Regions from separate parts of the Homo sapiens genome. Here region 2 is linked to region 1. A link means that fine-mapping ties the variant in region 1 to the expression of a gene that starts in the linked region. Tissue or cell type: tibial nerve. Region 1 holds a variant in brackets; the other region holds the start of a gene. All regions are shown on one strand. Distances are between the middles of the regions.

What was found. PIP is the estimated chance that this variant, and not a neighbour inherited with it, causes the effect.
Region 2: it holds the start of LYNX1, and the variant in region 1 is fine-mapped to the expression of LYNX1 in tibial nerve (GTEx, PIP above 0.99).

Annotation. Positions count from the first base shown.
Region 1 is chr8:143,607,971-143,613,105 of GRCh38, forward strand. PYCR3 (pyrroline-5-carboxylate reductase 3) reads right to left here and starts at 1,605. Exons shown (of 6, transcript NM_023078.6): 1 at 1,488-1,605; 2 at 92-156. The coding sequence starts at 1,578. It overlaps GFUS (GDP-L-fucose synthase), which reads right to left. Exons shown (of 11, transcript NM_003313.4): 11 at 4,648-4,995. The coding sequence ends at 4,940. RefSeq lists an enhancer at 2,713-3,212. The variant T/C (reference allele first, on the strand shown) is at 2,434.
Region 2 is chr8:142,774,586-142,779,724 of GRCh38, forward strand. It overlaps LYNX1 (Ly6/neurotoxin 1), which reads right to left and starts at 2,617. Exons shown (of 4, transcript NM_177477.4): 1 at 2,521-2,617; 2 at 1,321-1,536; 3 at 1,008-1,109; 4 at 1-778. The coding sequence starts at 1,372. The coding sequence ends at 582. LYNX1-SLURP2 (LYNX1-SLURP2 readthrough) reads right to left here and starts at 3,287. Exons shown (of 5, transcript NM_023946.5): 1 at 3,174-3,287; 2 at 1,321-1,536; 3 at 1,008-1,109. The coding sequence starts at 1,372.

The DNA.
Region 1 (5,135 bases):
ATCCCTGGCTCTGATAAGTGTCTTAGTGGGACAGGAGCCAAGAGCTATCCTGGGCTCCTGAGGGTATGAAGAACCTGGGCTCTATGCTCACTTGAAAGTGACATAGGTTCCTGTCTGTTGGTGCACTGGCCAGTATGTGCTGAGCTTCCACTTTTCCTGGAAAGAAAGGAAAAGGAAGAGGGGTTGGTGAAGGGGTGGGATAGGATGGCACGGAGAGGAGAGGGAGCTCACTTGGCCTCTCAGGCTCAGCCACGCCTGGCCCATCCTGGGCCCCCTCCTGGCCCCAGGAACCCAAAGCGGGATGCACCATTCACTGGGCCCAGGCAATCAGATCCACTGATTCTACTTGGCGGTCAACGCCCCTGACTGCTGCTGGGTATGGAGGCCAGGAGCTTACCTCATTGGTGAGGACACAGATCCCTGGGGCCTCTGCCTCCAGGGAAGGGAAGGCTGCCTGGAGCAGAAGAGGCAGTACCTCTGGAGGAACACCAGGCCTTGGGGGAATGTGGTGGGTACAAAGGCAGTTGATTGGCCACAGAAGGCCCAATCGGGGCCCAGGTTCTTCGAGAGGGAGAGTCTATGCTGGAATGTCTAAGAAAAGGCTAAATGCCTACTTGGTAGAAATTATCTGCTTTTGTCGGGTACGGGGTGGAAAGATTGGGTTAGATTTTGGTAAGGTCGAACAGGAAGGCACAAGTGTACACCACAACCTGAACACAGCAATTAATCATGACAGTGGCAGCCAAACACACCAGTACTAAGCTCAACACTAGACATTTATGTCTCATTTAACCTGTACAGCTCTGGGAGGCATGCGGTACTGCCAGGTTTCACAGGGAAGACTCCTGAGACTCATAGTAAGCTATTTCCCGATTGATCTTGACTCTTCTGGACCCTGAAGTATGGCTGAAGGCAGAGAGTCAAAAGTCACCCAGCTCTCCCTATCCACAATCTGCAGAGAGGCTTCTAAATGCCTGGAGGAGTATATGGTCAGCATAAATATTCCGGGTATAAAGCAGTGTTTCTCAACAGGGGATGATTTTGCCTGTCTCCTCCCCCCACCCAGGGGACATTCGGCAGTGTCTGGAGGCATTTTTGGCTGTCACAACGTGGGGGTGCTGCTGGCACAGGATGGATAGTCTGGCCCAGGTGTCCCTAGAGCCAAGGTGTCTGGGGGAGAAGCCCTGCTGCTCCCCATGAGAGGGGCTGGCGCGCAAAGAGAAAATCAGAGGCTGGAAGAGGTGAGCCTGGCCAAGGCCACGCGGCCAGGAAGCCGGCCACGGAAGCGGCACCTAGCCACGTGTGACTCAAATCTTCCCGCAGCCACGTCAAAAAAGTAAGAGCAAACAGGCGTGGCCCCGGCTGCGCCCAGCGGAGCGGAGACCCGGTTGGCTGGGCCCGCGCCCCCGGCCCCACTCTCGCGGCAGGACACCTCCCACGGGGCTGCTCCCACTCCAGACCGCAGGCCTAGCCCCGCGCCGCCCCACCTGCTCTGATGAGGCCCTGCGCGATGGCCCCCGCCATGCGGCCCGCGCCCACGAAGCCCACGCGCCGCGGAGACGGCTCCGCAGCTGCCATCTTGTTGCCTCGGACGCCGCTGCGCTCACCGCCCATCCACAGGCCGCGCCCCGCCCACAGATCTAGGCCCCACCCCCGCCCTCCAATAGGACTCGCCTCCCCGTCCCCACCCTCGCCGATTGGTTACTGGGACGGCACACTCCGGCCGGCTTTTTGTCCGCACTCTACAAGTTCGCAAGGCGCGGGAACCCCGCCTCTCGCTGCTTATTGGCCCGAAAGGGCTATGCCGCCCCTCACTGCCCATTGGCTGAGAGAAACTGGGGGCGGGGCCGTAAGGGGCGGGGCCGGCGGGGTACTCGCGCTCGGAGAGGCCGGAGGAGCGGGGAGGGGTCCCGGTCGCGCGTGCGAGGAGCACATGTTGGTTTTCCGGAGGGGAGGGGTAGCGAAGCGGGTTGCGGGGCTGGTCCAGAGCGTGCGGTCACTGAGGCCCCGCCGACCACAGACGGTGGAGCTGCGGGGAAGCACTAGGGGCGGAGACCCAGGTCACGGAGAGCAGGCCAGGGCCAGGGGCCTGAGACCGACGGAGGGGACAGTCGGGGAGGGGGTACTCGTCACTTTTAATGACACAAGGAAAACAAGGCTTGAAGATCTGAGTGCGGTTTTTTCATCATCCAATCTAAAGCTGCATGTTACATATGTTATTTTCTTTTGAAGCCTTTGACATTTTCTTTTTTCTTTTTTTTGAGACGGAGTCTCGCTCTGTCGCCCAGGCTGGAGTGCAGTGGCGCCATCTGGGCTCGCTGCAAGCTCCGTCTCCCGGGTTCACGCCATTCTCCTGCCTCAGCCTCCCAAGTAGCTGGGACTATAGGCGACCGCCACCACGCCCGGCTTATTTTTTTGTATTTTTAGTAGAGA[T/C]GGGGTTTCACCTTGTTAGCCAGGATGGTCTCAATCTCCTGACCTCGTGATCCACCTGCCTCGGCCTCCCAAAGTGCTGGGATTACAGGCGTGAGCCACCGTGCCGGCCCAAGCCTTTGACATTTTCTAAGCTCTTCAGTAATGAAATCCTCTCATTGATTCAACATTCACTGTGCAGCTGCAGCCTCTGGGCCCTGCTCTGGGCCTGGGCAAGATCACCCCACGGCAGCAGATGGGACAGGCTGGACCCCACCCTGCAGCCCTGCTTGGTGGCAGTGTAGACAGACTACAGTCAGCACACACGCAGGACAGCCAGTGTGTCAAGGCTCTGAAGCAAATGAGGTGGAAAGGGACAGAAAGCCACCAGGAGGCTGCTTCGGCCACTGCAGCCGAGAAACGTGGGTGGTGGACACTTTGCACCAGCACACAGCGTCAGCAGCTGTATCTCCTGCCACCTCGGATCCTCCCAGCCCCTTCCCACAGACTCCCTGGATTTTCTCCCAGGCCCCCTGGGCCAGTGATGGCTCAGGACCAAGGCTGTGGGGAGGTGAGAGGGGCCAGAGGCATCCAGTGCCATGCCATCATACATAAGGACAAAGCTCATCATAAACAAGTGGACTGAGGCGAGGTGAAGGAGGATTGCTGGCTGAGTGCCCAGGGCCACAGTGGGTAAAAGGAGGCCCAGGGGCCCAGCCCCGTTCAGCTTCTCCGTCCCATGCCGGGCTGGGCTTCTGAGCATCAGCTGGGAGCCCTCAGCTGACGTGGACACCCAGCCAGCCAAGGCTTGTGTCCAGGGCACCTCTCTGCTCTTGGCTGGGCTTCTTCCCACTGTTCACCTGGTGGATCCAAGCAGCCACATAGGCGCCACCCTCTCCAGGAGGCCTTTCCTGAACCCCCACATGGGCAGAGCCTTTATCCACAAAGGGCTGGGGCCAGGGGATACACTGTGAACGAGGCCAACCCGTCTCCTGGAGCTCGAGGTCCTGGGGTGTCAGCGGGAGGGTTAGGGGTTGAGGCGGGGCTCCCAGAGGTTTCCAGACAAACAATCCCAGCAGGGCAGGGTGGATGCTCCGAGAGGCGCTGTGAAGGTGCCATCAGGGAAGGTGTTTTGGAGGCTGGGCCACCTCAGCTGAGGCCTAAAAGGTAGGGAGGCCTTGACCCAAGAGGGGGCCAGTCTCAGGGGAGGCCTGGAGGACACCTCGGCTTGCTGGACACAAAGGGACAGTGAGAGATGAGGTGAGCGGTTGGCTGGGTGCAGGACACACCGGTCTGGACTCAGTGCCGGGACAGGGAGGACACATCACCGCTGCCGGAATGAACGAAGAAGTGAAGCAGCAGGTCCTACCTGCAGCCAAAAGGCATCATGTGCGTGAAGACGGCACAGGGCGCCCAGGAGAGGGACCCTGAGGACGTGGGCCCAGAGTTGGGCCAGGAGCCAGGGAGGGCATCTGGGTCCTGGATGCAGTGGACCAGAGGGTTCTGGCATAGGGGCTCCCTCTGTGAGAGGCACTGAGAAAGGGGGCGACGGGCAAGCCGGGGCCTGGAGCCCAGTGCTCCTGGTCCATACCCCAGCGCCACCCTGCCTGGCTGAGGCACTGGCCCGGGAACCATTCTGGACTTTGCTGTCTCCCCTCTGAGAATGGACGGGGGCGGCGAGCAATGACACCCCACCTCTGGTGGCTGGAGCTGACCTGTCCAGCAGGCACCTGTCCCTCTCCATGGGATAAGGCCAGGTGGGGGACCCACGCCCAAGCCTGAGAGCCACAGAGAGGAGGGGCCAGGCCAGGGGAAGCCCGAGCCACCCAATCATCAGCCTCCCCTCATATCCATCCATGGGCTCAGCTCGGCTGGCTCACTAGACGTTTCTGGCCCACTAGACCAGCTTCCCCAGAGCCCTCAGGCTGAGGCAGGGAGGTCCGGGTGAGCTCAAGTTACTCAGGCCTGCAGGTGGCCACATGTGGAGGGGCTGGGACTGGCCCTGCCCTGCACATCCTTGTCCAGCTGACAGTCCACACCAGTCTCACTGCTGCCTGCCTGCTGCCTGCCCACGTGTGCCTTCCCATCTCCAGCCTCTGCGGCCTTTCCACCCCAGGGAGTCACCAGCTCTTGGGGGCTGAACAGTAAGCCAGGGGGATAGTGGGTCCTGGGACTGGCCAGGCTAGGGGGCAGTCCCTGGGTGTGGGGGACGGCTCAGCACAGAGCTGCCAAGGCCAGGCCTGTGAAAATGCACTTTATTGGCTCCCAGGGAGTGGGATGCAGGATCAGAGTGGACACGCGCAGGGGGCTGGTGTGGGGAGCAAAGCGCCGGGCCTGCCCGGGACCCTGGTTTCCCTGAGGACCAACGTGAATGGGGGCCCCACTGGAAAGATGCTTGGGGCTGCAGAGCGGATGGAATGCAGGCCCAGGTTGCTGGGTGGTGCCCTCAGCTCCTGGCAGGGTTGACGGGTGGTGGCCGCTGGGCTCTGCCAGCCGATGGTCCGCTGGCACCTGATCCTGTCTTCCAGCTTCACTTCCGGGCCTGCTCGTAGTTGTCAGTGAACCAAGCACAGGTCTCCTTCACCGCTGCAGAGGCAGGCAGGTGAGGGCCATGGACAGGGAGGGTCGGGGCCGCATGGGAGGAAGTGGGGGGAGGAGGCCCAGGGACAGGGAAGTCACCCCTCAGAGCTTTGGTGTCCCACCTCCAGGGCAGTACAGGCTCTGAG
Region 2 (5,139 bases), 830 kb before region 1:
GGGGGTGGCTCCAACTCGGGCCTGGCAGACTTCCTAGCACAGGGGCCGGTGCCAAAGGCCCTCCTCCCACAGCCCTGATCCCGTACCGGTCCTGGCAGCTCCTGGCCTCAGTAGGAAGCGTGACTAGGCCTGGAGGAGCCTTTCCTCCTAAGAGTCTCCCCACCACCCCACCTGCGGGCATTCCTTGTCTTCCCCCTGCCCCAGCACACCAGGGGCAGACTGAGGCAGGGGCCTCTCCTAGGGCTTCCCAGAAGGTGGGCTTGGCCACAGCTCCCATCTGCTCAGTGCTCCCTGCCTGACTGGGCCCCTCCCCATAAATAGCCCTGGACAGGCGAGGGGCTGATCAGCCCATCAAAGCCGGACACTTTTGGGATCCCACACAGCATCGAAAGGTCAAGGCCTCGAAGTGAGGTCGTGTGGTGGTTGGGGGAGGTCGGGTGTCTTCTTGCCCACAGTCCTGACCCTGGGCATGGCTGAGGAGGTCGCAGGGAGTGTGGAGGGTGAGGCAGGGTGAGCTGGGTGCGAGGGTGTAGCAGTGTGTCTCGAGAGCTTTGTTCTTGAGTGGGTCTGCCTCGGGGGCTTTAGAGGAGACCCCAGAGGGTGGCCAGGAGGATGGGGGCCAGGGCCAGGGTGGCCGGGGTGGCAAGGCCGGTGCCGTTGCAGAGGTCGTACTGGCAGCAGGAGGTGGTGGACGCGTGCTTGGAGTAGCCATCATACACAGTCTCGAAGCAGCGGGGCACGCAGGACTTACTGACCTTCATCCTGGTGGGGGTGTAGTCTGCAGAGGGGCGGGGCGGTGAGCCAGCTCCGCTAAGAGGGGCAGGAGACCCAGCTGGCCCCACCCCAGCATCCACAGCCATCAGGGCAGGGCCCCTCAGCCTGGAGCTCCCAGACAGGATCCGGGAACAGGAGAGCCTCCTTCCTCAGGACCCCCGCATGCTCAGGGGCAGGGCAGAACCTCCCCTTCGTGCTCCCCAGGCAGGGCCACGCAGGGCCCCCAGACTCACAGGTGCGCGTGGTCATGCAGTAGGCAACCATAGCCGGGCAGCGCATGGGGTTGAAGCAGTTGTCTCCGTTGTAGGCACACACGTGGCAGTCCAAGGCCTGGGCTGGGGTTGGCAGATGGGCGGGAAGGGAACGGGGGTCACAGAACATGAGAGGCCCCTCCTCCAGCCCATCAGGCCCCCAGCCCGTCACCTTCCCCGGGGCAGGGGGCTAGAAGGAGGGGTTGTCGCTGGGAATTCTAGCCTCCTTCCCTACTGTCAGCCCATCTGCCCTCAAAGTGGGTCTGCCCATCCCTCTGTCCTTTGTCCATCTTACCCAGAGGTAAGCCCATGAGGACCACCAGGATCAGGGTGAGCAGGGGCGTCATGGCTGCAGGCAGGAGGGCAGCGTGGGAGTGGGGAGGTCAACAGCAGCTAGCCCTGGATCCAACTCAGGGGTGGCGCACAGAGGATCCAACTCAGGGTGGTGCGCAGAGGACGTGGGGCCGGCCCTGCCTCCCGGAGCTCCTGGTCTACTGGGAGTGCTGCAACCCTGCACAGCAGGTGGCAAAGACAGGTGGTCAGTACTGGGCCTGAAGGACCCATGGGGGCCTGGGCAGGGATGATGGTGGGCAGAGGGGCCACCTAACTCAGTGGGTGTCAGGGAAGGTTTCCTGGAGGAGGAGACACTTGGGATGGGACAAGAAGGGAGAAGAGATCAGGACATTTCAATCAGAGACCAGCACCTGCAAAAGCTCAAAACAGCCTGTAGCGCTGGATGGAGGAGAGATGGGGGGAGGATGAGGGGCAGTGCTAGAGAAGGAGTAGGGATGGGCAGAGGGGCCTTAAATACCAGGCCTAAACAAGGATTTTACCCAGGGGATGGTTGGTGCAGAGGTCCCATGGGAGGTGGTCTGCAGCCCCATCCCAAGCAGGGCCCTGGGGGCCGGATGGCTGGCCATGGCAGGACTGGGCCCAAAAGCTGGGTCTCTTCTCGCTGTTCCCCTCCTCTCTGCTCCTGGGGTGTCCCTACTTGGGGTTCCTTCTTCCAGAAGACCTCCAGAGCCCTGGTTAGGGTTGTCTGAGTCCTCGGCCACTGCAGAAGCTCCCCAGCAGGGATGAGCTGTGCCCAGCTTGGGGGGAATGCATTTTGAGCCCCTCCCAGGAGGGCACTTGGGCCAGACAAGAAGAAGCATTTCCCCGGCTGGGTCTGGTGTTTGGAACGGGAATGCCCTCTCTGGAAAGAGGTTTACAGTGGGGAGGTGGGGGTTGGATTACGGCTCTCCTACCCCTGCCGGGATACTCGGCCCTCGGTCTCCGTCCTGGAGGACTAAATTAAACTTACGCCTTCCCGAGAACAACAAATCCGTCTCTCACGACACATTTGCCCAGGCCAACCCCAGGATGCCAAAGGCCAGAGTCAGGCCTGCGGCTTCGAGCTTCCCAACCCCCTCACGGAGAGCCCCGCCCCAAACACTGCGGTCCCAGGTCGAGGGGAGGGCTCTCGGCGCGAGCGGGACTATCAGGGTGACCTCACCTGTGACCTTCACCACCGTGAGGTACCGCCGCGCCTGGGAGTCACCCGCGGCCGCTCGCCGGTAGGTGCCTGCCTGAGTCTAATCGTAGGCGTGTCTGTGTGTCCCGCAGCACCCGTGCCGCATCGCCTGATGCTCACCGCAGGCCCAGCCCAGTCCCGCCCCCGGAACAGCCCGCCCAGCGCGAGCTCACCGCAGGCCCCGCCCCAGGCCTGCCCCGGCCCCACCTCCTGAGCAACCCCCCGAGCCGAGCTCACCGCAGGCCCCGCCCCGGACCCGCCTCCTGGGCTACTCACCAAGCCGCGCTCACTGCAGGCCCCGCCCCTGCCCCGCCTCCTGGGCACCCGCCGAGCCGAGTTCACCGCAGGCCCCGCCCCGGACCCGCCTCCTGGGCACCCGCCGAGCCGAGTTCACCGCAGGCCCCGCCCCGGACCCGCCTCCTGGGCACCCGCCGAGCCGAGTTCACCGCAGGCCCCGCCCCGGACCCGCCTCCTGGGCACCCGCCGAGCCGAGTTCACCGCAGGCCTCGGCCCGGACCCGTCCCCGGACCGCCGGCTCGCCGGGCAAGCGCTGGGACCCCGAGGCCAGTCCAGGCATCTGGATCTCCGACACAGAGGCAGCCACGCAGTGATTCCCTGGCGACCCTCAGACTCACGTGTTCAGCCCGGACACTCCGCAGGCTATCTTCACCGCGTCCCGCGGCAGCCCAGCCTTCCCCGCAGCCGCCTCCGCCCACTCGCCCGCGCCGCGTCGTTTGTCGGCCGGCACCAGCCTTGCGGCCCCAGCTCCGCCCTCCTGCAGCCCAGGCCCAGCAGCTCCGGAACTGGCGCCCTTTGGCGCACCCGCCTCGCTGCCCATGGCCTCCGCCTGCCTCCCCTGCGCTCAGCTCCCGCTTCTGGTCCCTGTAGCAAAGCTGGAAGGCAGGCCTGCAAGGCAGCCCCTTGCTCCGTGGTCCCTCTCACCATCATAATGTTCATATTAAATAATTATCTTTACATAACTTTGAATACTTATGTTATTGGTTCTGTTTTTGGCAAAATGTAATAAAATTTCATGGGTCCGAAAGTTTTCATTTTTTCCAATGTGAGAAAGAAAAATAAAACCTTTTCTTCTACCCTAAAGCTCATTTTTTTCTTTAAAACATTTTTGCGGGCCTGAGGTACAGAATACACCATGCCTGCTGGGCAAGCGGGCTCCGGTTCCAGGAAATCCTTCGGTCCCCAGCAAACTAGGCCAGTTAGTTGTTCTGTTTGCCGAGAGGTAATGCGCACCCTCCTGTGCCAGGTCCTAGTTGGGGAGAAGGCAAAGAATAAAACCAGCAGACGTTCCAGAATATTCCCACCCCATGGAGCTCACACTCTGGTGGGATAAGGGGCGTGGAAGGAACGCATAGGTCAGAACCAGAGTATGTCGCGGTCTTCAGCCTCAGACCACGATGAATTAATACGGATGAAACTTCCCTTGCCCGCCCGCCAGCGCTCGCCTCCTGCTGTGTGGCGTGGTTCCTAACCGGTCTGTGACCCAGGGGTTGGGGACCTTTATGTTAAAGGAAGTTCTTCAGGCAGAAATACGGATCTACACAAAGGAATAAATGACACCAGAAATAGGAAATAGAAGGTAATTTTTTTCTTATTTTTGAATCAAGTTAAAAGATAGTTGATTACCTAAAGCAAAAATAATAACAATGTATTAAGGAATTTATAGCAAATGTAGAAGTAAATTGTATGATAATAGTAGTGCAGGCTGGGCACCGCGGCTCACGCCTGTAATCCCAGCACTTTGGGAGGCTGAGGCGAGTGGATCGCTTGAGCCCAGGAGTTCAAGACCAGGCTTGGCTGGGCAACGTAGAGAGACCTCATCTCTAAAAAAAAAAAAATACCAAAAAATTAGCTGGGTGTGGTGGTGCACACCTGAGGTTGCACCCAGGAGGCTGAGGTGGGAGAATCACTTGAACCCAGGAGGTGGAGGTTGCAGTGAGCTGTGATCACGCTACTGCACTGAAGCCTGGGTGATAGAGCAAGACGCTGTGTCAAATAAATTTAAAAAAAAATAGTAATACAAATAGACCAGGAGAGGGACAATGGAAGTTCACTGTTGTAGATTTATTCTACTCTATGTGAAGTGGCCTACTATTTCTTGGAGGTAGACTAGTAAGTCAAAGGTGTATGCTAAGACGCTAAAGTGTCACTAAAAAAAGACAAAGAAAAAAGCAAAAGTCAAAGCACTGTAGTTAATAAATCAACAAAAGTGATGATACAGAATTATTTATTTATAAAAGCACATGTTACAGAGACTGCAGAAGAGGAGAAAGGAAAAAACAATGAGACAAATAGAAAACAAATAGCAAGATGACATATATTTAAACCCAGCCACAGCAATAATGACACTATGTCATCTAAACACTTCAATCAGGCTGAGCACGGTGGCTCACACCTGTAATCCTAACCTGTAATCCCAACACTTTGAAAGGCTGAGGAAGGTGGATCACTTGAAGTCAGGAGTTCCAGACCAGCCTGGCCAACATGGTGAAACTCCCTCTCTACTAAAAAATACAAAAATTAGCTGGGCATGGCGGTGGGTGCCTGTAATCCCAGCTACTTGGGAGGCTGAGGCAGGAGAAT